Linked DNA regions of Homo sapiens: all the other regions are linked to region 4. Evidence: fine-mapped expression QTL. A gene starts in region 4. Each other region holds a variant in brackets. All regions are shown on one strand. Distances are from middle to middle.

Region 1 (5,103 bases), 21 kb before region 4:
CTGGGTCATATAGTAAGTTTATGCTTATTTAATCTTTTAATAAATTGCCAAACTGTTTTCCAAAGTATCTGCACCATTTTACATTCTCATCAGAAACGTAGGAGGGGTTCCATTTCTCCACATTGTTGCCAACAGTTGGTATTGTCCTTTTTAATAGCCTTCTAGTGGGTGTACACTGGAATCTCATTATAATCTAATTTGCATTTCCCCAAGGACTAATGATATTGAGCATCTTCTTGTGTACTTGTTAGTACATAGGTAAGAATGAACTTAGCGTCCTCCAGTCTGCATTTCCAAATGGGCAGGCAGGTGGGTAGGGTTTATATTTTCCCAGATGAGGTCATGTGATCCCTCTGTGGATGAGATCAGCGCTGGCTCTGAGGAGATCCTTGGTGTCTACCTGCAGGAATCTGAAATGGTAAAGAGAAGGCATCAGGTGTACTTGCGGCTGGGTGCAGTGACTCATGCCTGTAATCCCAGCACTTTGGGAGGCCGAGGCCGGTGGATCACTTGAGGTCAGGAGTTGGAGGCCAGCCTGGCCAACATGGTGAAATCCTGTCTCTACTAAAAATACAAAAATTATCTGGGAGTTGTGGTGCCTGCCTGTAATCACATCTACTTGGGAGGCTGAGGCAGGAGAATCGCTTGAGCCCGGGAGGCAGGGTTGCAATGAGCTGAGATCATGCCACTTCACTCTAGCCTGGGTGACAGAGCATGACTCCATCTCCAAAAAAAAAAAAAAAGTGTACTTGCATGTTGGGGTCTGCAGATGGGTGGAGTCATCTGCCCTTTCTTTTCCCCAAGAAACCAAACTACCCAGGGAGGGACACCCAGAATTGCCTCAATGAAGCAAGCCACCCTGTGTAGGAGACACTCACTGGGATTCTGTGAAATAGGGGGCCTGTGAGAGCTGGAAAACAATGTGGCAGCTGTCTGGAATGGAGGCCAATAGTAACTCAACTGGGCTGTGGCAGAAGAAGGAAGGCATTGGGCTGTGTCTGATCAGAGCCTGCGATTTTTCCATCAGTCCTAAACTGGCGTTTGCCTTCTCTGTTCACATCTTTGGGATCTGCCTCCTCTGTCAGTCCCCTAAGCCTGGCACTTCTGTGGGTAGAGCTCCTCTTCAAATGCAAATCAGGTCTCTTTGCCCACCCGCACTCATGAACTTTTTCATGGTACTTAAATGTGCTGCGCTCTCTCCACCTCTCTTTTCCCTGATAACCTTTATCCCTGTGCATTAGGGTTATGCTAGATGCTGTAACAGACCTCAGAATTTCAGCATTTAACACAATAGAGTTGTTTTCAAATTCTCAAAATGTGTGTGAGCCGGGTGCAGTGGCTCACACCTTTAATCCCAGGGCTTTCGGTGGCTGAGGAAGGAGAATTGCACTTTGGGAGGCTGAGAAGGGAGTATGGCTGGAGCCTAGGAGTTGGAGACCAGCCTGGTCAACACAGTGAGACTTCATTTCTACAAAAAATAAAAAATATTAGCCAGGCACGGTGGCACACATTTGTAGTCCTAGCTACTTGGGAGGCTGAGGTGGAAGGATTGCTTGAGCCCAGGAGGTTGAGGCCACTGTGAGTCGTGATTACACCACTGCACTTCAGCCTGGGCAGCAGAGTGAGATCCTGTCTCTAAAATAAATAAATAGGCTGGGTGTGGTGCTTCATGCCTGTAATCTTAGCACTTTGGGGAGCTGAGATGGGTGGATTGCTTGAGCCTGGAAGTTCAAGACCAGCCTGGACAACATGGCAAAACCCCATCTCTATAGAAAATCTACAAATTAGCTGGGTGTGGTGGTGTGCACCTGTAGTCCCAGCTTCTCAGGAAGCTGAGGTGGGAGGATCACTTGAGCTCGGGAAGCGGAGGTTGCAGTGAGCCAAGATCATGCCACTGGACGCCAGATGGGGAGAGAGTGAGATCCTGTCTTAAAAAAAAAATTGCAATAATAAAATTCTCAAAACAATCTATATAGCTATTCCAGGTTGTGTGGTGCTAGTGGTATTGTGGAGTTGCTATCTCCCACACTAATATGAAGAAGGTTTGTTCTTTCTCTTTTTTGAGACAGGGTCTCTCACTCTGTCACCCAGGCTTGAGTACAGTGATATGATCACAGCTCAATAGATCCTCAACCTCTAGGGCTCAAGCAATTCTCCTGCCTCAGCCTCCCGAGTAGCTGGGACCACAAGCACACCCCACCATGCCTGGCTGATTGTTTTTTTGTTTTGTTTTGGTAGAGATGGGGTTTTGCCATGTTGTCCAGGCTGGTCTTGAACTCCTGGGCTCAAGGGATCCTCCCACCTTAGCCTCCCAAAGCTCTGGGATTACAGGCATGAGCCACCATGCTTGGCCAGATGTGATTGTTTTACATCAGCAAATAGATTAGATTGCAGTTCCAACTACAAAGGAAGAAAGAAGTGGATCAAATACTGCATAAAGTATATAATTATTTTTATTGAGGCAAAATTCACATAACATAAAATTTGCCATTTTATTATTTTATTTATGTATTTATTTTTTCAGAGTCTGTGGGGCGGGGA[A/G]GTGGTCTCTCTTTGTGCTCAAGCTGGTCTTGAACTCCTGGGCTGAAGCCATGCTTCTTCCTCAGCCTCCTAAGTAGCTGAGACTACAAGCTTGCAGCCCAGTGCCCTGCTTAAAATTAGCGATTTCAAGGCTGGGCGTGGTGGCAAGGCCTGTAGTTCCAGCTACTTTGGAGGCTGAGGCAGGAGAGTCATTTGAACCCAGGAGGTGGAGGTTGCAGTGAGCCAAGATCATGCCACTCCACTCTGTCCTAGGCAACAGAGCAAGACTCAGAAAAAAAAAAAAATAGAGATTTCAAAGGGTGGCCATTTCAGTGGCATTCAGTACACCTGCAATGCTGTGCAACCACCACTTCTAACAGGTTCCAAAATTTTTCCATTACCCTAAAGGAATACCCCTTGCCTGTTAGCAGTCACCCCCTACCTCAATCACCCCCGCAGCTCTAATCAACTATCAATCTGCTTCTAACTCTATAGATTTACCTGTTGTCGATATTTCATGTAATTGGTACCATACAATATATGAGCTTTTTTTTTTTTTTTTTTGAGACAGAGTCTTGCACTGTTGCCTGGGCTGGAGTGCAATGGCGTGATCTCAGCTCACTGCAACCTCTGCCTCCCGGGTTCAAGCCATTCTCCTGCCTCAGCCTCCCAAGTAGCTGGGATTACAGGTGCTTGCCACCACGGCCGGCTAATTTTTTGTATTTTTAGTAGAGATGGGTTTTTTGTTTTTTGTTTTTTTTCTTTTTTTTAAGATGGAGTCTCGCTCTGTTGCCCAGGCTGGAGTGCAATGGCACGATCCCGGCTCACTGCAACCTCTGCCTCCTGGGTTCAAGGGATTCTCCTGCCTCAGCCTCCCGAGCAGCCGGGACTACAGGCATGTGCCACCATGCCCAGCTAATTTTTGTATTTTTTTTAGTAGAGATGGGGTTTCACCATGTTGACCAAGATGGTCTGGATCTCTTGACTTCATGATCCGCCCACCTCAGCCTCCCAAAGTGCTGGGATTACAGGCATGAGCCACCGCGCCCGCCCTATATTAGGTCTGGCTTCACTCAGCATGTTTTTGAGCAAAATGTTATAGCATGTATCAATAGTTCATTCCTTTTCATGGCTGAATAAAATTTTGTTGTATTGGCCAGGCACGGTAGAGATTGCCGCCTTGCACTCCAGCCTGGGCAGCAAGAACGAAACTCCATCTCAAAAAAACAAAAAACAAACAAACAAAAACCAAAAAACTTGAACATCAGGCTGGCACGGTGGCTCACACCTGTAATCCCAGCACTTTGGGAGGCCAAGGTGGGCAGATCACCTGAGGTTGGTTTCATGTGCGTCCGTGTGAAGAGACCACCAAACAGGCTTTGTGTGAGCAACATGGCTGTTTATTTCACCTGGGTGCAGGCGGGCTGAGTCCGAAAAGAGAGTCAGCGTAGGGAGATAAGGGTGGGGCTGTTTTATAGGATTTGGGAAGGTAATGGAAAATTACAGCCAAAGGGGGTCGTTCTCTGGTGGGCAGGGGTGGATCTCACAAAGTACATTCTCAAGGGTGGGGAGAATTACAAAGAACCTTCTTAAGGGTGGGGGAGATTACAAAGTACATTGATCCATTGATCAGTTAGGGTGGGGCAGGAACAAATCACAATGGTGGAATGTCATCAGTTAAGGCTGTTTTTACTTCTTTTGTGGATCTTCAGTTACTTTAGGCCATCTGGATGTATACGTGCAAGTCACAGGGGATGCGATGGCCTGGCCTGGGCTCAGAGGCCTGACAGTCGGGAGTTCGAGACCAGCCTGAGCAATGTGGAGAAATCCCGTCTCTACTAAAAATACAAAATTAGCCAGGCATGGTGGCGCTTGCCTGTAATCCCAGCTACTCAAGAGGCTGAGGCAGGAGAATCGCTTGAACCTGGGAGGCAGAGTTTGCAGTGAGCTGAGATCACGCCATTGCACTCCAACCTGGGCAACAAGAGCAAAACTCCATCTCAAAAAACAAAACTCGAACATCCCTAAGAGTATTTCTGCTCCCTAGAACCTATGCCAACACCACCCTCAGGGTCCACATGATGAGTCTTCCCATACATATTATTCTCATGTAATATAACCATTTCATAAAGAAGGGACCGTCCCCCATTTTACAGATGAGGAATCAGAGGCACGGAAGGATAAAGTGACCCCATCCAGGTGGTATTCCCAAGCCTAGTGTTCATCCCACTGTACTGTAGCTAATGTCTCTGAGGGCAGGTAACTTGAAACAAGGTCTGTGTGGAAAGCAAACTCCTTGCAGAGAATTTCAACGCAATCTAAGTGAATGCAGAAAACCCTTGAATTCTGTTCTTCCCTGGGCGATTGTGAATGCTGTCCGAGAGTGTGTCTTTCCAGGCAGGGAGCCAGTGTGCTGGGCTCACAAGTTCTCATCGCTTCCCTTTTTGATACCGTCTCATTACTTTTAATTGCATCTGAGTCTTTCTAGCATCTTGTATTTTGCTTCCTAATCCAGGGCATTTCTCTGCCTCCCACTGGTCCAGCACAGCACTTCTCTCTCTCAGAGCTCTCCAGAGAGGTGCC
Region 2 (5,103 bases), 43 kb before region 4:
CCTCCCCTCTCTCTCTGCCTTTCCAAACCCCCCTGCTCTTCAGGATTCAGCTCAAAGCTCCTTTTGTAGCCCTTCCTGGGCACCTCAGCCTTTAGGCCTGATTCCCCCAGAACTCCTGCCAAGCCCAGAGGAAACCCAGTCTTCAGCCCTTGGTCATGTGCTTTCTTTGGAGATAGAGTCTCGCTCTGTCACTCAGGCTGGAGTGCAGTGGCTCGATCTCGACTCACTGCAGTCTCCATGTCCTGAGTTTATGTGATTCTCCTGCCTCAGTCTCCCAAGTATCGGGGACTACAGGCGTGCGCCACCATGCCCAGCTAATTTTTGTATTTTTAGTAGTGATGGGGTTTTGCCATGTTGCAGACTGGTCTTGAACTCCTGACCTCAGGTGATCCTCCCTCCTCGGCCTCCCAGAGTGCTGGGATTACAGGTGTGAGCCACCACACATGGCCGGTCACGTGCTCTCTATCGTCTTTTGGTTGTTGATTGACTTTGCCTGAGTTTCTCTTCCCTCCAATTGGTCAGTTTCATACTTTATATTCCCACATGGAGCCCAGCACATACTGCATGGGGCAGAGATTTCAAACAGGAGAATGAAGCCTTCCTGGCACAGTGGGGGTGTGTATGGGGCTGCAGGAGCGCCTGACTCCCCCGGAAACCTGGGGCTTTCTTCAAATCTCAAACAGATGAAGGGTGGGTGAGTGGGAAAAGAAAAGTTTCAAACGAAGCCATATTCACCTCAAAAGTAGGATCACCGCTTCTTTGAGGGGCCGTTATCCCTAGGGCCTAGGGTGGGAAGGAGAAAGGGGCAGTGCTCAGGGGTCTCATCTCTTCTAGCAGAAGGATGATATTGGTCTGAGGAAGGCAATTTTCTGGGGCCGGAGTTGGTGGCCCCGCAGCCTGGTGAGCCAGGAGGGGGCAGAAGGAAAGGGTAGGTTTTGAGGAGCTCCCACAGCGCTCATGGGCCTCTCTTTTTTGGCTCCAGGCGAAGATGAAGAGATGGCTGACCCAATGGAAGATGTGATCATCAGGAATGTGAGTAGTTCCTGCAGATGGGGGGCTAGGGCTTCAGACCTAAGCCTGGGCTCCACAGCTTCTCACCCCCACCACACGTAGACATTGGAACTGCCCTGTTTCTGGAATGCTCGGTGCATCCTCACAGGTGTGCATAGCAGGCGGTCCAGAAGGTTGTGGGTGCCAGGCAGGACAGGGTGATGGTTGTCTAGTTAAAGGAGAAAGAAGGCAGAGACCCTTGTCTCTCTAGCGAGGGCATGTGCTATGCAGGGGCAAGGGCAGCAGCTTCCCTGTGTGCTCCTGCATGGGGTGGGGGCATCCACCGTAGGGGAGCATGGCTGTGTGCCCAGCACTGTGCTGAGGGCCCCACATAGCCTCACGAAGATAGGGACTCCGTTGTCCCAGTGACCAGAGGAGCGTACAGAGGTAAGTAGCCTGCCCAGGGTCACAGGACTCAGTCTGTGCAAACCAGGAATTTGAACCCTGGTTTTCCAGTCTCCTAAGCCCAGGAATTCAACCTCTTTGCCACCATTACCCCTGTTGACCTGGCAGTGCTGCCTGCCAGGATGGAAACAGCCTCTCAGCTGCCCCACCTGAACCAACAAGGGTGAAGTGGGCCCAACCCATCACCCAACACCTGTCAGTCTCAAGCTCAGTGGAACATTTCCATTCTGGAGCAGTTTCTTCCCTCTCTGCCCTTCCAGACTATGCCCCAGCCCATCCAGCCTTCCTGGGCACCACCCGTAGGTGACAGAGCCTACATCAGGGTATAGTGATATCGGTGGGGAAGCGGCAGACTCTGGGGTCCCATCTTGGCTTCAGCCTAACCTTTTAAAGCCTCAATTCCTGATCTGTAAAGTGGGGTTATAAATAGACCACCTGGTGGAGTCATTGGGACAGTTTGGTAAGATTGGGCGTGTAAAGTGCATTAGCATAGTGCCTGAAGTGTTACAGACTTCCCCCACATCCCCGTTTTCATTGGCGTCATGTTTGTCAATGTCTGCCCATATGCCTTGCCAAGTGTCCATCTGCCCAGTGTGGCCCGAGGAGGAGTTTGTTATTAGAGCATTGTGACAGCGCAGAATTCTGTTTGAAGAGCTGAGTACATATCCAGAGTCTTGGGTCAGAGAGTAGCTGAGGACCTGAGCAGCCTCTGATGCGGGAAGCCCCTCTGGGATGCCCTTGAGGAAAAGCAGTGGGGCTTCTGCTGAAAACCCTCCTGCCCCTCTCTGCGCCCAGGCAACCACTCCTGTGGGACAGCTTCACCTACTGGGAGTCCTTCCTCTGCTTGGTCTGACATGGGCCCCTCCGAGAGGCCACCCTCAGGCCAGTCTAGTCTCCCTCTCCAGGTGATGGCAGTCGTCTGCCAAACGTGTGTCTGGGCCCAGACTGCCTGGGCTCAAGTCTTTGTTTCTGTGTACAGTGCTTGCCACTTAGTGATGCAAAGTAAGCC[A/G]TTGTGACTTGATTATTCACTTTTCCTGGAAATCTTTTTCCATTCAAAGCCTCCTGGGTTCCTTAAGCACATCTTCACATGTGGCTTTGCAGATCCTCGGCAGCCTACTCCTCTCCCTGGCCGGGGAGAACCGACCACGGCTTTCTAAGGATGTCCCCCACTGCCCCGGGCAGAGCGGGACTGAGCAGATGCCTTGTCTCCAGGCACTGAGAGGGCCCCAGGGCAGTTGCATTCTGTGGCTGGCTCCTGCCACTGAGACCCCCAGAGGGTTTCTTGCATGGCACTTAGTTCTAACTCTTTTTTTTTTTTTTTTTTTGAGATGAAGTCTCACTTTTTCGCCAGGCTGGAGTGTAGTGGCGCAATCTCGGCTCACTGCAACCTCCCCCTCCCAGGTTCAAGTGATTCTCCTGCCTCAGCCTCCTGAGTAGCTGGGATTACAGGTGCATGCTACCACGCCCAGCTAATTTTTGTATTTTTAGTGGAGATGGGGTTTCATCATGTTGGTCAGGCTGGTCTCGAACTCCTGACCTCGTGATCCACCCACCTCAGCCTCCCAAAGTGCCAGGATTACAGGCGTGAGCCACCGGGCCCGGCCAAGTTCTAACTCCTCGGCCAACCATTGTGGAAGCATGAAGTGCTGGGGTTCAAGTAGCTGCCTCCATTCAGGGCCAGCAGGCTGGGCTGTTGGCCAAGCACCAGCTGAACCAAGAGCCAGCTCAGCCATCATCCCCTACATTGCAGTCGGAGTCAGCTTCCTCCCGGTTCCTGTTTCTCCACTAGGAGCCCACTCAGCTGGGCTTCGGCCAGTGGACCTGGAGTCCCCCGTCTCCCAGGCACACCCTGTGTGTGCTGCAGCCTGTTCGCTCTGCCCAGGCCGATCCCTTTACCTGGCATACCTTTCCCCTGGTTGGCCTCTGGATCCCCTGGGTAGCTGGAGCCCTGGGAATCTGCAGTTTCTAGAGGTTTCTGGGGCACAGTGGCACAGACCACAGTGCAGGGACCAGCCTTGCCAGCTGGGGCCACCTCTGTTTGCCTGCCCTCCCTGCACAGCACGCCTCTGCCTGGCCTGGTTGTTGGTTCTAGGCTCACATCTGATGGGCTGGGGCCGCTGTCGGGCTCTCCCTCCTTCCCTTGGACTGCCTAACACAGTGCCAGGCGCACAGTAGGTGCTCTGTCACTTCCTGTTGAATATAATTGACGAGCTGACGTGTCTTACTGTCCATGATCATACCTGCTGGGATGGTAGCATTGTTGAGGATCAGTGATGACTGGCTTGAGCAGGGGTCTCCCACCCGCCTGAGAGCCCGTGGAGCACAGGAACTAGATCTTGTGCCCTGTGTCCCCAGGGCCTGGCACTTAGTAGGGGATCAGTAAGTGAGTGATTAATAGGGAGAGTGGGGTGGGGTTTGTGTGAAGCAAAGAACTGGTAAAGCTATTCTCTCTGAAGAGGCCAGGGACCTCATTTTCCCCATTAGGAAGGCTGGGTAAGCTGATGTCAGAAGCCCTCTGGGCAATTGCAGGCCTGGGTGGGGCCCAGAGTGGAAAGGAAGAGCAGGAACGGCCGCCACCAGCCCGGCAGTCAGGACATGGCCAGAGCTTCTCTTCTGCACTGCCTGGCTTTGTGATCTTGGACAGTTCCTTGCCCTCTCTGGGCCTTAGTTTCCCCATCTGTAAGTGAGAGGTGGGGTGCTTAGCAGAGGGCCTCTCCTGCTTGATGCAGGGTACTCTGCTGTTACTGTTGGCATTCCCGAGGGTGGGCACATCCCCTGGTTCACTCACTACCCACCTATTCTCTCTCTATAGAAAAAGCACCAGAAGCTCAAGCACCAGAAAGAGGCTGAGGAGGAGGAGCTGGAGATACCCCCTCAGTACCAAGGTGAGGCTTCCACTCCTCTCTCCTGGGACACATGGATCCCTGTCACCTGCATTAGGGAGGGGAGTCACAGGAAGGGGTGGCAGGGCCATGAGGGTGCACAGCCTGGTTGCACTCACTTGGCACCAACAGAGGTTGGCTGATATGACACTCAAGATGGGCCTGGAGTCTAAGGGGCCCTGGGGGTGTGAGAGAGCCTATGGGTTAGGAGATCTGTGCATGGAACCACCAGCCTTCTGAGGAGCCCTGAGCCACAGCTCCTTCCCACCCGCCCAGGCCTCCCAAGAGGCTTGAGTCTGTCCCTTCTGCGAGCTGCTTGCCTCTCTTGGTCACCCTAAGAGCACCAACCGAGTCAGGCTGGGTTTAGAGAAGCCACTTGGCCGGTGCCAGGGCTGGGAACTGGGAAGGTTGGTATTGGGTCTGGCCAGAGGGTTCCCCTCTATTTCTATCTCTGGGCCCACCAGCTGTTGCCCTCCTAGAGCAGCTGCTAGAAGTGCCAAGGTGGCTTCACCTCTGCTTCCTTCCTCCCAGGGTAGCCTTGCAGGACCCCTGCCCCCAAGCCCTTGCAGCAGAGCCCTTGCTTTGCATCTGGAGGTCCAGGGGCTCCTGTGGGAAGCCTCTGATTCCAGTAGCTGGTGTGTCCTCAGCCCTAGAGCATCATAACGCAGCTGCACAACCTCATGGCTCTTCCGCCTGTGGCACCCATGAGCCAGGGCCAGCTCACCTACTGTGCCCTGGGATGGAGTGATGCTGAGGCAGGAGTACC
Region 3 (5,103 bases), 33 kb before region 4:
CAGCTTATTGGTGTTGTTTGTTTGTTTTTTAAAAAAAGGCCAGGCACGGCTCATACCTGCAATCCCAGCACTTTGGGAGGCCGAGGCGGGTGGATCACCTGACCAACATGGAGAAACCCCATCTCTACTAAAAATACAAAATTAGCCAGGCATGGTGGTGCATGCCTGTAATCCCAGCTACTCGGGAGGCTGAGGCAGGAGAATCACTTGAACCCGGGAGGCAGGGGTTGGGGTGAGCTGAGATCGCATCATTGCACTCCAGCCTGGGCAACAAGAGTGAAACGCCATCTCAAAAAAAAAAAAAAAAGAAAGCGTGAAGCCAACCTCCTTGTTATATATAGCACATTTTCCAAGGAACTTTGTTTTCTTTTAAAGATGGGAAAGGCAGGTGACCTAGAAAGGTTGGTGTTAGTGATGTGCTGAATGCCATATTCTTTTGGAAGTAGACTTCAAATGCAAGTGATCTTGATGCAGAGGCAAGAATTAATCTTCACCCTGAAACTTCAGGTGTATTTTGAAAGTCAGTGTTCTTGAGGCCGGGCGCAATCACTCACACCTGTAATCTAGCACTTTGGGAGGCCAAGGCAGGTGGCTCACCTGAGGTCAGGAGTTCAAGACCAGCCTGGCCAACATGGTGAAACCCTGTCTCTACTAAAAATACAAAATTAGCTGGGTGTGGAGGCACACACTAGTCCCAGCTACTCGGGAGGCTGAGGCAGGAGAATTGCTTGAACCCGGGAGGCGGAGGTTGCAGTGAGCTGAGAGCGCGCCTTTGCACTCCAGCCTGGGTGACAAGAGCGAAACTCTGTCTCAAAAAAAAAAAAACAAAGTCAGTGTTGTTTCAACAGTGTGGCGAAAGAGAGTCTTAGGAGTGTTCATCAACAAAAGATTCATCCAATTTTAGGGTGAATAGGAAAGTTGAGAGCTCTCACTCTCCAGATTTTCAATTTGTGCTTTTGGGAATGTCAATCTGAGGCTTGCTTTTCTGGGGTCCATCCTCCACTCATTCTCAGAAATGGAAAACAGGTCCTACCCTGCTTGACTACGAAAACCGCAACCCTGCAGTTGGCCAAGGGAGTGGTCAAGCTTTGGGGATTTGCAAAGGCGGTCTAGTCATGTCCACATTGTGACACTTCTGGCCATGGGTGAGTCAGGTTAAACTGACCTTGCCCCTTCACTATTTCCCTTCTCGTGATTGTGGCAGAAGGCTTGGTGGGGACTGTCCTGGCAGTTCATTCCTGCCAGTGGCCATCTTTAGAGCTAGTCCTACTTACAGCATGATCAGTCCCAAGAAGGGTGTTTTTTCTGTACTGTTTGCAACATGTAACAAAATTGCTTATGAAGTTCAGGTAGCCTGTTTTCAGTCCTCAGAGTCCTTTCCCCATTTTTTCTTTCTTGGTTGCTTATGTTTCCTCAAAGGGTAATTTTAAAAATTAAAATCGTATATATTTCACTACAAAAGTGATAAAGATTCCCAGAACATTTGGAAAAAACAAAAGTAAAAGTAGGGGCTAAAATCCTTCCACCAAATTCTGTTATTACTAGTGCATTTCATTCTTTTTTTTCTTAATATACGTAGGGCTATTTTTTTTTTAATTAAGGAAAAAATGTAAGGCCAGGCACAATGGCTCACACCTGTAATCCCAACACTTTGGGAGGCTGAGGCGAGAGTATCGTTTATGCCCAGGAGTTTGAGACTGGCCTGGGCAATATAGTGAGTCCTTGTCTCTACAAAAAATTAGCCAAGCGTGATGGAGTACACCTGTAGTCCCAGGTCCTCCGGAGGCTGAGGTGGGAGAAGAGCTTGAGCCTGGGAAGCAGAGGTTGCAGTGAGCCGATATCATGTCACTATACTCCAGCCTGGGCAACAGAGTAAGACCCTATTTCAAAAAAAGGAAAAATGGGGCCAGGTACGGTGGCTCATGCCTGTAATCCCAGCACTTTCGGAGGCCAAAGCAGGTGGATCATCTGAGGTCAGGAGTTTGAGACCAGCCTGGCCAACATGGTGAAACCCCGTCTCTACTAAAAATACAAAAAAATTAGCTGGGCATGGTGGTGCGTGCCTGTAATCCCAGCTACTTGGGAGCCTGAGGCAAGAGAATTGCTTGAATTTGAGAGGCAGAGATCGCAGTGAGCCGAGATCACGGCACTGCACTCCAGCCTGGGCAACAGAGCAGGACTACATCTCAAAAAAAAAAATGTTTTAAAATGCAAGTTTACACTTTATATATATATATGTGTGTGTGTGTTTTGAGACAAG[A/G]TCTTGCTCTGTCATCCAGGCTGGAGTGCAGTGGCACAGTTACAGCTCACTGCAGCCTCAAATTCCCTGGACACAAACAATCCTCCTGCTTCAGCCTCCTAAAGTGTTAGGATTACAGGCATGAGCCACCATGCCTGGACAATTTGTGTTCTAAATTTGCACTTGACTAAAGTTCTTACCGTATACTAATGTAAATGCTTCATAAAGATCATTTCCTTTTCTTTTCTTTTTTGAGACGGAGTATCACTCTTGTTGCCCAGGCTGGAGTGCAATGGCGCGATCTTGGCTCACTGCAATCTCTGCCTCCCAGGTTCAAGTGATTCTCCTGCCTCAGCCTCCCGAGTAGCTGGGATTATAGGTATGCACCACGACGCCCAGCTAATTTTTGTATTTTTAGTAGAGATGGGGTTTCTCCATGTTGGTCAGTCTGGTCTTGAACTCCCAACCTCAGGTGATCCGCCCACCTCGGCCTCCCCAAGTGCTAGGATTATAGGCATGAGCCACTGCACCCGGCTATAAACATCATTTTCAGTAGCTCAGCTTTAAACATCTGCCCAGCGGACATAGTTCAGTTTACAAAGCATCTTTGAGTCCATAAGTATGTTGTTCTTTGCTGTATGCAGGAATTTAATGCCATCACTAGATGCCAGACCGTGTGCAAAGGAGTATTTAGAAAATGCCGTGATGACTACTCTATGTTCTATTTTCGATATACATTATTGTGAATAGATAGATGACTGTACTCCAGAAAATAACCCTGATTTGGGACAATGTAAGCTGGTTTGCCATTTCCTGAAATTATGCTTGACGTAGCTACTGCCATTAGAAACACCAAGCTGTTAGAGGCCAGCTGAGTTATCCAAGGCCAGGGATGCAGTGGCACATTTCCTCCTCCCATTCCAAATCTCAATGATTCGTCATGGAAATGCCTGGATTTGGGTTTTGAGGCCGTGGTCAATCATCAGTAAATACTGACTAAGAACGTAGGTAGATGGTGTAGTGGCTTGCTGCTGCATACTCATTCCAGGGCTGAGGACTGGAGATCAGCTTTACAAGTCTAAAATTGGGATTGATGCTGGGTGCAGTGGCATGTGCCTCTAGACCCAGCTACTTGGAAGGCTGAGGTGGGAGGATCACTTGAGACCAGGAGGTTGAGGCTGCAATGCACTTTGGTCCAGCCTGTTATAGTCACTGCACTCCAGCCTGGAACTCTAAATAAATAAATAAGGATAAAATCAGGATTGATCAGGTTCAGAGAAGAAGATACAGATTCACATGAGACCTAGTCGAAATTATAATATATTAATTTATAATGAGAACTATAACTGCCCAAGATACTCAAGGTGACTGCTCAGCACATGCTCCCTTGCATAGGAAGCTGAAACCAGTGTGTTTTCTGTACTGGGGGCATAAAACAGGGCAAATGGAATCATGCAAGTGATATGTGAATAATATTGTCATTGGGGTGGGACAGTTTTGTCTCTGGGGATATATCTGCCTACAGGGGCCCATTCTCCTAGCAGCCTGTTGGGGCCCTGCCCCTCTATTTTGGTTGGCTGCAGAATGGAACAGATCCTTCCTCTCTGGTATCTTGTAGGGCCTTTGCAGCCATTTACCTGCTGTTCAGAAGCTGTTCTGAGATTTTTTTTTTTTTTTTTGAGGCAGAGTTTCGCTCTTGTTGCCCAGGCTGGAGGGCAGTGGCACGATCTTGGCTCGCTGCAACCTCCGCCTCCCAGGTTCAAGCGATTCTCCTGTCTCAGCCTCCCAAGTAGCTGGGATTTACAGATGCCTACCACCACTCCCGGCTAATTTTTTGTATTTTTAGTAGAGACGGGGTTTCAGCATGTTGGCCAGGCTGGTCTCGAACTCCTGACCTCAGGTGATCCACCCACGCCTCAGCCTCCCAAAGCGCTGGGATTAGAGGCGTGAGCCACCAGGCCCAGCCTGTTCTGAGATTTAGTAAGGCTTCCTTCACAGGCAGGCATGCCTGGATTGAATTTCCAAGGCCAGTTCTGGCTTTCACCAGAGAGACATCCTGTTCCTTCTGGGGCCTTGTTCAGATAACTAATCCTGTCCCTCGTGTAGACTTGAAGGGTTTAACTTCCAGAGGGCAGCCTGATTTCCAAATTCCAGGGATGTCACCCATCACCCATTACAGAGCTGATGATTTTAAGTCAGAATTTCAAAGAGGATGTGAGGCACTGATGACAGGCAGATGGATTTGCAACTGGTGCCAGGAATAACCTGTATAGCCCTCATGGTCCTCCACCAGTGAAGGTTCTGCAAGCTCTTGGAAGTCTTGGTTTTTTGTTTGTTTGCTTTTTTGAGACAGAGTCTCAATCTGTCACCCAGGCTGGAGTGCAGAGGCATGATCTCAGCTCACTACAACCTCTGGGTTCAAGCAATTCTCCTACCTCAGCCTCCCAAGTAGCCGGAATTACAGGTGCATGCTGCCACGCCTGACTAATTTCTGTACTTTTAGTAGAGATGGGGTTTCACCATGTTGGCCAAGCTGGTCTTGAACTCCTGACCTTAAGTGATCCGCCCGCCTCGGCCTCCCAAAGTACTGGGATTACAGGTGTGAGCCACCATGACCGGCCAGAAGTCTTGTTTTTAACCAGAACAGTTGCTATGCCATAGCTCTTGGACTTGAGGCCACTGAGCCTGAATTACATACACAGTAGATAACCTGAGACCAACCCTCAGTTGTAAATATGCTCATAAAAATGACAAGGCACAGTGTTGCCCTGAGCAGATTTTATGTGTATCGATTGGATCATTGTGTGATAATACTTATCTAAAAACGCCTTCATTCATCATTCCAGCAGCTAGTTCAACTCCTC
Region 4 (5,103 bases):
GGGACAGAATGGTATAAATGTGCCAGGGGCAAAGACAGGAGTCTTTTGTAAGTTTCCACCCAGCTTTCCTACCACCAGGCTCACATTGTGAGCAGTCTCCTAATCAAGAGCTGCCCCAGCCTTAAGGCCCACCTTGTGGAACAAGTGCACTTAATGGCCACGGTGAGAAAGAAGAAAAAAAGAAAAAGAAAAAAAAAAAGATAAGCCTCCCAGTTTGCAGTGACTGGCTGATCTGATGTCCTTTGCTAATAGAGGCAGCTTTATAACACATCTCCATCACTGACTAGTAATCCAAAAGGCTCTGAGGTTTTAACGAATGGGATTGGTCCAAAACCTGACCTCACTTTCATTTAATTTCATGCCAGCTCCAATACACACCCAGCTGCGGAGACCTTGTCTAGCTAGTGAGCTGCTCAGACACAAAGGCGCTCTAATTACCATCCACAAGCCAGGCTGACAGAGATTTCAAGTGTTTTCATGTTTATGGAGATCAGAGAAATGTGTTCTGTACATCTTTTTCACTGATGGCAAGTATAAAATAAAACCAAACAAAAAACCCAACACATTTATTCAAAGCAGGCATTTCAGTTAAGTTAAAATCCTATAATCAGGATAGCCACAATTCCAGACACTCCGGTGCGAAGTGTAGATATGTCAGTAGCCACATCTGGATGATGAACAAGCCATTGACTATAAAAACGAGAACAACAGCACAGTCTCAGCGCCTTTAGAGTGAGTGAACAGTATGTTCCAAGCACTTCACCATGGTTCACAATGGCAAAGCCTGCAGCTTCTCCATTTGGAGGGTCACATTTTCTACTCGGTTTCCTGCACTTACAAAGGCCAGCTGGCATGGCTGGGGGAGGGGCAGAGGGAGGAAATCAACTCGTCTATCCAGGGAATTGCAGCTGTTATTGCAAATGGCCCCGGAGAGCCCATTATAAGCTGCTGTGCTAGGCTGTGTGTCCCTGGAGTGTCCATCACATGGCGTCTCCCTAGCCCCCAACCCAGGCCCCCAGGATCCCAGAGCCACCCGCTTGAGTAGGACTGCAGAGCCGAGTAGGAGAGGAGGAACCCAGGGCCCGGTCTCGGGAGTTTCCGTGAAAGCCCGGAGCGCGGCCAGGGGCGGTGGTCGCCTACCGAAGCACAGCCGCCCAGCACGTCCGCGCTTTCCCACACCCGCGGTGGCGGCGACGCGCGTGTCCTCAGGAGACTCCAGCACTTGCAAAACACTGCGCTCTTCTCCGAGCACCGGCAGAACCTGGCTACTCTGTCCCGCAACCCAGTGCGTGCCCAGGAAACAGTGACCTTGAACCGAGGAGAGGCGGGCCGGCTCTGAAAATACACTTTAGACAGGGCGTGGGGTTCACTCCGCGCCTCTCTACCCTTCCACCACCATTCAATACTCCCCGCCCCCACCTCCTTTCCCCACCCGTGTCGTACAGCCTTCCCCCACCACTCTGAGAAGAGAGACAGTTGCAAAGAGAGCGCAGGGGTTAACTCCTATTCAACCCCCAAAGGGTCCCTTCATGGCACCGCATGTTTGGTATTAAGCAGCACCTCCAAAGACACAAGATGGTTTTTTTAAGTCTGGCAGATTGGGCTGCACCCTGAAATTATCTACTCATGTTCTCCTCCCCCAAAGTGGATCAGGAGCCAGCCCTGAAAAGGTAAAGCAAGTAACTGGCATCATCCTCCGTGGTTCCGGCGCACCGCGATCCGGAGAAGCGTGGATTGTGGCCACATGGTCGCGGGGCTGGAGGGCACTGAGAGGCTGCGAGGAAATGCAGGCTCCGCGGCCAGGTCGGGTCACGCCAAATAAGGAGTCCTACTGACTTGTACGTTTGAGGTGCGCTCTGTAAAATCTGCCTTAAATAGGGCCAAAGTCCTTCATTCCAAATATTTTGGCCCTCAACCCCAGTTACCCGCGAAACACTCGCGATTTTTCGGTTCCTCGTCATTAGCTTTTTACTCTCGCTTCCAAAAGCCAGAGTTCTCCACCAGCCTGAGTAGAACTGCAGCCCTCAAGGGAACCCCTTGCCCTCCAGTCTGAGGCTGGCGCTGTGGCCACCCCGGGCGTGTTAGCTGCCAGGCACAAGAACGCCGTCGCCAGTTCTGAGCTGCGCCCTCCCGGAGGCGCCAGGGTCACTGCAGGCCGCGCGAGGGCTGCGAGGCGAAGGGGGTTCATGCACCGGGGCCGACAGAGGTCCCAGGAGCGGGCGTTGGGGAAGCTTTGCACGTAACTGCAGCCGTCGCGAATGAAGCCTTCGCACGGCCTCCTTGATGAGGTTTCCAGAGAGCACTAGCTGCTGCAGAAGCCGGTGCGGGTCGTCGTCGCCTGTGCGGGTTTCTGGTTGGGACCCGCGTCGCTGCTGCAGGCGGCGGGAGGCGGCGGCGCCCCGGAGCCATCCTCGCCGGCACGGACCCGACAGCGGCTGCGGGATGCCCTGCTTGCCAGCTCCCGGAGGCCCATCAAGGTCGGCCTGAGGGGGCAGTGGGGACAGCGCGCTGGGGCCTGTGGCGAGCTCGGCCACGCAGTAGGGCGCAGCGCGGCCCCGCACGCGGCCGCGGTCCCCCAGGGCGCAGCGCAGGACCCCAGGGGGCGCCGGGCCCACAGTCTCCGCCAACGCGGGCGGCAGCAGCAGCGGCACCGCCGGGGACCTGGCCTTGTCCGCCGGCACCGCCGCAGCCAGGGGCCCCGGGGCCCGCAGCGGCGCCCCCGGGGGCCCGCACGGCGAGGCCGGGCTGTGCTGCGCCGCGTCCAGCTGCAGCGTCTCGCCGATCTGGGCCACCAGCCGGTCCACCTCGCCCGAGCTGCCCAGCGCCACTGACTGCTGCAGTAGGAGGAAGCTGTCCTCCTCCTCTTCCTCCCCCTCCGCCTCCTCGCCGGCTTCCTCTTCCTCCTCCCTCCGGCACGGCATGGCCCCCTGTCTGGGCACCCGGAGCTGTGCGGGCGTCGCTGGGGGCTCGGCTGCCGGCGGGCGCGGTGGGCCGCGGCGGAGCGGGCGCGGAGCTGAAGACTAAGTCTGGACCGGGGCCGGGGCGGACGCGGAAGCCGGAGCCCGCCAGGCACTCTAGCCGCGCGCCTGCAGCCGCGGGAGCCGGAATCCTGCCGGCTCGGGTTGATTTGTAAACAATGGGTGACGTCACGTCGGGCCCTACCACCGCGCCGGGGAGGGGGTGCTGTGCCGCTGGGGGACGGCGCTTCTGTGGGATTGGGGGTCTGGGTGAAGCCGGACTGCCTTCTGAGCTCCTTCGCTCAGGGTGCTGTCTGCAAGGGCGCCCTGGGGACCTGATCCTGGCTCCCGCAGTCGGGCGCGATTGGCATTTCCAGAAATGGGCACCAGCGTGAACCCTGTTGGTTTCTTCCACACACAAGCAAGCACGCACACTAACACACACCCACCCACCCACACACCCCTTCTCTCCGTGCGTCAACTCAACCGGTTTTTAGCGTTTGCGCTTTTGAGGTCCGGCATGCGGGCGTCTGGTGAGGATGGAAAGGAAAGGGAGTCAGGCTAGGGATTTGTACGGAGATTAGGGAAATGAAGCTGACGGGAATGGAAAGGAAGAAGGGGACCTTGTCGTTCGATGGAGGTGGCAGAGTTGGAAATGGCAAAGAAAGGCCACAGATTAATGTTTTTTGATCGAGATCCTGGGCGGATGGGGGCCTGGACTGGGGTTGGCATTGCTGGAGAGGAGGTTGCTAGTCTTTTTGTTTATTTGTTTGTTTGTTTTTTTGAGACGGAGTCTCGCTCTATCGCCCAGGCTGGAGTGCAGTGGCTCGATCTCCACTCACTACAACCTCCGCCTCCTGCGTTTAAGCAATTCTCCTGCCTCAGCCTTCCGAGTAGCTGGGATTACAGGCGCCCACCACCACGCCCGGCTAATTTTTGTATTTTTAGTAGAGACGGGGTTTCACCATGTTGGCCAGGCTGGTCTCGAACTCCTGACCTCAGGTGATCCACCCGCCTCAGCCTCCCAAAGTGCTGGGATTACAGGCGTGAGCCACTGCGCCCGGCCTAGGTTGCTACTCTTTTTGTTTTGTTTTGTTTTTTTGAGACAGAGTTTCGCTCTTGTTGCCCAGGCTGGAGTACAATGGCGCAATCTCCGCTCACCACAACTTCCGCCTCCTGGGTTCAAGCAGTTCTCCTGCCTCAGCCTCCCGAGTTGCTGGGATTACAGGCATGCGCCGCCATGCCCAGCCTAATTTTGTGTTTTTAGCAGAGATGGGGTTTCTCCATATTGGTCAGGCTGGTCTGGTACTCCCGACCTCAGGTGATCCACCTGCCTCGGCCTCCCAAAATCCTGGGATTACAAGCGTGAGCCACCACGCCTGGCTATAGGTTGTTAGTCTTAAGAGGGGCTATGTCCAGAAAGTTGTTTAAAAAAAAGCCTCAGACCAGTAGGGGGGATGGGCTCTGAGGAGGTACGTAGTAGCAGAGAAAAATACCTGTTTGGATGAAAATGGAGATACGCTTCCTTCCTTCCTTTCTTCCTTTTCTTTCTCTTTCTTTTCTTTCTTTGACAGAATTTCACTCTGTCACCCAGGCTGGAGTGCAGTGGTGTGATCTGGCTGATTGCAGCCTTGACTTCCCAGGATCAGGTGATCCTCCCACCTCAGCCTCCCGAGTAGCTGGGACAATAGGCACGCGCCACTACACCTGGCTAATTTTTGTATTTTTAGTGGATACAGGGTTTCGCCATGTTGGCCCGTCCGGTCTCAAACTCCTGGACTCAAGCAATCCCTCCTCCCGAAATGCTGGCGTTACAGACATGAGCCACCGCGCCCAGCCTGGAAGCAACTTTAAAATTCTGAGCATGATATAGAAAATAGGATACAAAGAAAGAAATGAGCCTGGAGATCCAGATAAATAGAAAACGAGGGTCTTGTTGGGCAGTTCCAACGATAATAATTATAGGAGCAAACCTTTAGGAAGGGATGAGTGCAGGAAAGAGGTAGGGAAGTTGGTTTAAAAAGAGTTGGGTTTGTTTTTGTCAAGTGTGGAGGAAAAAATGTAAAAACAGAGGAAGAGACAGTTTAAACAAAGCCATTGGATTTCTAATCTACGAAATCTGGATTTCTACAGGGTGTCATAAGGT
Region 5 (5,103 bases), 34 kb after region 4:
GGAAAAATGGTCTGATTTGCACAGATGAATACATATGTAAATATTGAATGCAGAATATGTGATCATTTAGAACTGCCCAGCTTTTTGTTTTTTCATCATTATTTTAACACTGCTCCTAATAATTACAAATGCTTTAACTTCTTTTAATAAAATATTTATTTATTTATTTATTTTTGAGACAGAGTTTCGCTCTTGTTGCCCCGGCTGGAATGCAATGGCACGATCTTGGCTCACCGCAACCTCCACCTCCTGGGTTCAAAAGATTCTCCTGCCTCAGCATCCCGAGTAGCTGGGATTACAGGCATGTGCCACCAAGCCCGGCTAATTTTGTATTTTTAGTAGAGACAGTGTTTCTCCGTGTTGGTCAGGCTGGTCTTGAACTCCCGACCTCAGGTGATCTGCCTGCCTTGGCCTCCCAAAGTGCTGGGATTACAGGCGTGAGCCACCGCACCCAGCCAAAATATTTATTTTAAAAAACTTATTATGATTTTTTTTGAGACAGGATCTCACTTTGTGGTCCAGGCTGGAGTGTAGTGGCATGATGATGGCTTACTATAGCCATGACCTTCTGGGCTCAAGCAATCCTTCCACCTTAGCCTCTCAAGTAGCTGGGACTACAGGCATGCGCCACCACACTCGGCTAATTTTTAAAATTTATTCTAGAGACTGAGTCTCCCTATATTGCCCAGGTGGGCCTCAAACTCCTGGGCTCAAGCATTCCTCTTGCCTTGGCCTCCCAAAGTGTTGGGAATATAGGTGTGAGCCACTGCACCTGGCCAAAGATTTAAACAAGGAAAAATTGCTCTGCCTATAAAGATTCCCATGTTATGTTTTTGACCTGTTGATGAGGAACACCCCCTCCCTTCCATTTCTGGTTTTTATTAAGTAGAATGGTCCTTTAAAATTTAACACATTTCATTTCTTATACCTTCAAGTTACTCTTAAGCAGACAATACTAAAGGGGAATCACAAATAGAAAATATCCACTGCCAGGCATGGTGGCTCACGCCTGTAATCCCAGTATTTTGGGAGGGGGAGGCAGAGACAGGAAGATCACCTGAGGCCAGGAGTTTGAGACTAGCCTGGGCAATATAGGGAGATCCTATAAAAAAAATAAAAACACATAGCCAGGTGTGGTGATGCACGCCTGTGGTCCCAGCTACTTGGGAGGCTAAGGTGGGAGGATCACTTGAGCTCGGGAGGTGGAGGCTGCAAACAGCCATCATCCTGCCATTGCACTCTAGCCTGGGTGATAGAGTGAGACCCTGTACAAACAACAACAACAACAAAAACAAAAAAAACTATCCACTTTATCAATAATAGTATAAACATAATACAGACCTTTAAGGGTCAAAGAGAAAAGGCGAAAGCAGGAAATGAAATAAAGCTACTTCTCCTCATAATTGGCAGTAGGGAAATACGCACAGCTTAGTATTTTTTAATTAAAAAGAGACTTAAAAAGAAAGTGCTAACTATTATTACATGAAGAGCCAGCTTAGGAACAGACAGTAGAATGCCTGGAAATGTTTCTGGAGGACAGGGGAGGTGTCTGAAGATGTGGAAAGGGTTCTATGTCTTGTTAATTTACATATACCTTAGGTATGGAATATTGGTTAGTAAACATGACTTCTGAGCCTTGGTTTTTTGACACGGAGTCTCGCTCTGTGGCACAGGCTGGAGTGCAGTGGCGCAATCGTGCCTCACTGCAACCTCCGCCTTCTGGGTTTAAACAATTCTCCTGCCTTAGCCTCCTCAGTAGCTGGGACTACAGCCATGTGCCACCACGTCCAGCTAATTTTTGTATTTTTAGTAGAGATGGGGTTTCATCATGTTGGCCAGGCTGGTCTTAAACCCCTGACCTCAGGTGATCCACCCACCTTGGCCTCCCAAAGTGTTGGGATTACAGGTGTGAGCCACCGTGCCTGGCCTGAGCCTTTTGGTTAAATTGCTTTTTCTGTAATAAGACAGTAATGTGTTCCTTCGAGAAAAATGGTTTAAAAGGTTTAAACCTTTATTGATCCCAGGAAGACTTGTCTGTTCTTACATGCACA[G/AG]TTAAGTGAGAAAACCTGAATCTAGTTTTGTATTTGTGCTGTTAAATTCTATCTGAAGGGTAATGAGGAGTAGATTTCTTCAGGGGATTTTCTTGAATCTGGTTTTATTTTACATTTTATCAATGATCAGGTTTAGAGAGTTTGATCATATTTGTAAATAAGGCCTGTCTTGGAAGGAGGGGAAGGAAGAAAACAGAATTTTAAAATTAATCTGCATAAACTGGTAAGTGGCATGAAACCACAGCATAAAGCAAAGCAGATATTGTTGCACAAGTTTACTTTGGTCAGAACAATTGGGTCGGTAGTGTTATAAAGAGTGATATAGGAAATCTGTAAACTTTTTGCTGTAAACATTACATTTGGCTTAGGCCAAGCATGGTGGCTCACGCCTGTAATCGCAGCACTTTGGGAGGCCGAGGCGGGCAGATCACTTGAGGTCAGGAGTTCGAGACTAGCCTGGCCAACATGGTGAAACCCTGTCTCTACTAAAAATATAAAATTAGCTGGGTGTGTGGCGGTTGCCTATAATCCCAGCTACTAGGGAGGCTGAGGCAGGATAATTGCTTGAACCTGGGAGCTGGAGGTTGCAGTGAGCCGAGATTGTGCCACTATACTCCAGCCTGGGCAACAGAGGGAGAGACTCTGTCTCAAAAAAAAAAAAAAAAAAGCAAAAAAAAAAAGAGAAAATTATCTAGGTATGGTGGCACATACCCGCAGTCCCAGCTACTTGGGAGGCTGAAGCAGGAGGATCACTTGAGCTCAAGAGTTTGAGGCTGCAATAAGCTAGAATGCCGCCACTACACTCTGGCCTGGGTGACTGAGACCCTGTTGTTAAAAAAAATAAATAAAAATAAATTTGTTTTAAAAAATTGTATTAAAAAACATAACAGTTTATCATCTTACCTATTAAGTGTGTAGTTAATTAATGTTAACTACATTCGCATTGTTCTGTGTCCAGCCATTTTTTATATGGAACATCTACAACCTACAAATCCATTGAAGCTTTAAGAGTATATACTTTCGGCCTTGCACAGTGTCTCATGCCTGTAATCCCAGCACTTTGGGAGGCGGAGGCGGGCGGATCACCTGAGGTCAGGAGTTTAAGACCAGCCTGGCCAGCATGGTGAAACCCCGTCTCTACTAAAAATACAAAAAATTAGCTGGGTGCAGTGGCATGCACCTGTAATCGCAGCTACTTGGGAGGCTGAGGTAGGAGAATCGCTTGAACCTGGGAGGCGGAGGTTGTGGTGAGCTAAGATCACACCATTGCACTCCAGCCTGGGCGACACAGCGAGACTCAGTCTCACAGGAAAAAAAAAAAAAAAAAAAAAGTATATGCTTTTTTTTCTTTCTTTCTTTTTTGTTAAGAGTATATAGTTTGGCTAAAAGTGGTGGCTCTCATCTGTAATCCTACCACTTTGGGAGGCTGAGGTGGTAGGATCACTTGAGCCCAGGAGTTTGAGACCAGCCTGGGCAACCTAGCAAGACATTGTCTCTACTAAAAATAAAAATAGTTAGCCAGGCGTGGTGGCACATGCCTCTGGTCTCAGCTGCTAGGAAGGCCGAGGCAGGAGGATTGCTTGAGCCTGGGAGGTCAAGGATGCACTGAACCGTGAGTATGCCACCATTCTAGCATGGGCAATAGAACAAGACCTTGCCTCAAAAAACCCCCAGTATATACTTTTTTCCCCTCTTCCCCACTATGAAATAAACTTATATAATATTTACTACAGAAGGCTAGAAAAATATGTAGAAAAAAATGGGGGCTGGTCTGAGTGTCTCACGCCTATAATCCCAGCACTTTGGGAGGCCAAGGTGGGCAGAACACTTGAGGTCAGTAGTTCGAGACCAGCCTGGCCAACATGGTGAAACCCTGTCTCTACTAAAAAGACAAAAATTAGCTGGGCATGGTGTCGCACATCTGTAATCCCAGCTACTTAAGAGGCTGAGGCAAGAGAATCGCTTGAACCTGGGAGGCAGAAGTTGCAGTGAGCCAAGATTGCACCACTGTACTCCAGCTTGGGCAACAGAGTGAGACAATGTCTCAAAAACAAAAAGCAAAAAATACAAATAAAAATAAGAGAAAAAAGCTAGGTGTGGTGGTGTGCACCTGTAGTCCCAGCTACTGGGGAGGATGAGGTGGGAAGATTGCTTGAACCTAGGAGCTTAAGGCTGCAGTGAGCTATGATGACACCACTGTGCTCCAGCCTGGGTGCCAGAGTGAGACCCTGTCTCTAAAAAAAAGAAAAAAAAAGGAAAGAAAAATATGTAGAAAAATGGTAAACTAGCCACTCCAATTTACCAGATAGATACAACCATTATTAATATTGAGACAGTTTTTTTTTTTTTTTTTTTAATAGAGATGAAGTTTCACTATGTTGTCTAGGCGGTCTCAAACTCTTGGGCTCATGTACTCCTCCCACCTTGGCAACCCAAAGTGCTGGGATTACAGGTGTGAGCCACCATGTCTGGTTCCTTCTGAGTCTTAAACTGTAATGCCTCTTATCTAAAATATGACCCATCCAAGATCTGATTTCTATCTTGGTTTCCCAGTTTCCTCCCAATAAGTGCATCATTTCTGGTTGGAAACAGTATAGCAAAAGAGTGATTGAAATACAATTTTTTTTTTTTTTGAGACAGAGTCTCACTCTGTTGCCCAGGCCGGAGTGCAGTGGCATGATCTCAGCTTGCTGCAGCCTCCGTCTCCTGGGTTCAAGCAGTTCTCCTGCCTCGGCCTCCCGAGTAGCTGGGACTACAGGCATGCGCCACCATGCTGGCTAATTTTTGTATTTTTAGTAGAGACGGGGTATCACCATGTTGGCCAGGTTGGTCTCGAACTCTTGACCTCATGATCCACCCACCTCAGCCTCCTGAAGATGCCCTCTGGTCACCTTCAGTGAACACTCTCACCTACACTTTTACTAACCATCTTTTAGGGTGGGTTGTTTCTACAGATGCTGGAGCCTATTTATTTTGTGCTGATGTTTTGCTACTGTTACCCGATATAAACTAAATTCAGCTAGGCCATAGAAACTACATAGTAACAGCCGGG

Which allele goes with the higher level. Alleles are on the strand shown, and positions count from the first base shown. SD is a standard deviation of normalised expression in the study named. Not every link is listed here.
For the expression in sun-exposed skin of the gene that starts at base 3,104 in region 4, A is the high allele of the variant in region 1 and G is the other (small effect, 0.15 SD a copy in GTEx).

Evidence for each region. PIP is the estimated chance that this variant, and not a neighbour inherited with it, causes the effect.
Region 1: its variant is fine-mapped to the expression of FRAT1 in sun-exposed skin (GTEx, PIP above 0.99).
Region 2: its variant is fine-mapped to the expression of FRAT1 in whole blood (INTERVAL, PIP above 0.99).
Region 3: its variant is fine-mapped to the expression of FRAT1 in whole blood (INTERVAL, PIP 0.96).
Region 5: its variant is fine-mapped to the expression of FRAT1 in whole blood (INTERVAL, PIP 0.97).

Annotation. Positions count from the first base shown.
Region 1 is chr10:97,338,114-97,343,216 of GRCh38, reverse strand. It overlaps LOC105378448 (a long non-coding RNA gene), which reads right to left. Exons shown (of 2, transcript NR_188201.1): 2 at 14-410. Among named protein-coding and RNA genes, the nearest start is that of FRAT2, 5.9 kb to the right of the region's middle. The variant A/G (reference allele first, on the strand shown) is at 2,542.
Region 2 is chr10:97,359,783-97,364,885 of GRCh38, reverse strand. It overlaps RRP12 (ribosomal RNA processing 12 homolog), which reads left to right. Exons shown (of 34, transcript NM_015179.4): 30 at 983-1,032; 31 at 4,268-4,340. Among named protein-coding and RNA genes, the nearest start is that of FRAT2, 28 kb to the right of the region's middle. The variant A/G (reference allele first, on the strand shown) is at 2,465.
Region 3 is chr10:97,350,187-97,355,289 of GRCh38, reverse strand. No RefSeq gene overlaps it. Among named protein-coding and RNA genes, the nearest start is that of FRAT2, 18 kb to the right of the region's middle. The variant A/G (reference allele first, on the strand shown) is at 2,261.
Region 4 is chr10:97,317,272-97,322,374 of GRCh38, reverse strand. It overlaps FRAT1 (FRAT regulator of Wnt signaling pathway 1), which reads right to left and starts at 3,104. Exons shown (of 1, transcript NM_005479.4): 1 at 460-3,104. The coding sequence starts at 2,921. The coding sequence ends at 2,082. RefSeq lists enhancers at 1,720-1,879, 2,969-3,263, 3,001-3,790 and silencers at 2,220-2,319, 2,820-3,129.
Region 5 is chr10:97,283,135-97,288,237 of GRCh38, reverse strand. All of the region lies in intron 1 of ARHGAP19 (Rho GTPase activating protein 19), which reads left to right. The region is part of intron 1 of ARHGAP19-SLIT1 (ARHGAP19-SLIT1 readthrough (NMD candidate)); the gene reads left to right. Among named protein-coding and RNA genes, the nearest start is that of ARHGAP19, 7.0 kb to the left of the region's middle. The variant G/AG (reference allele first, on the strand shown) is at 2,052.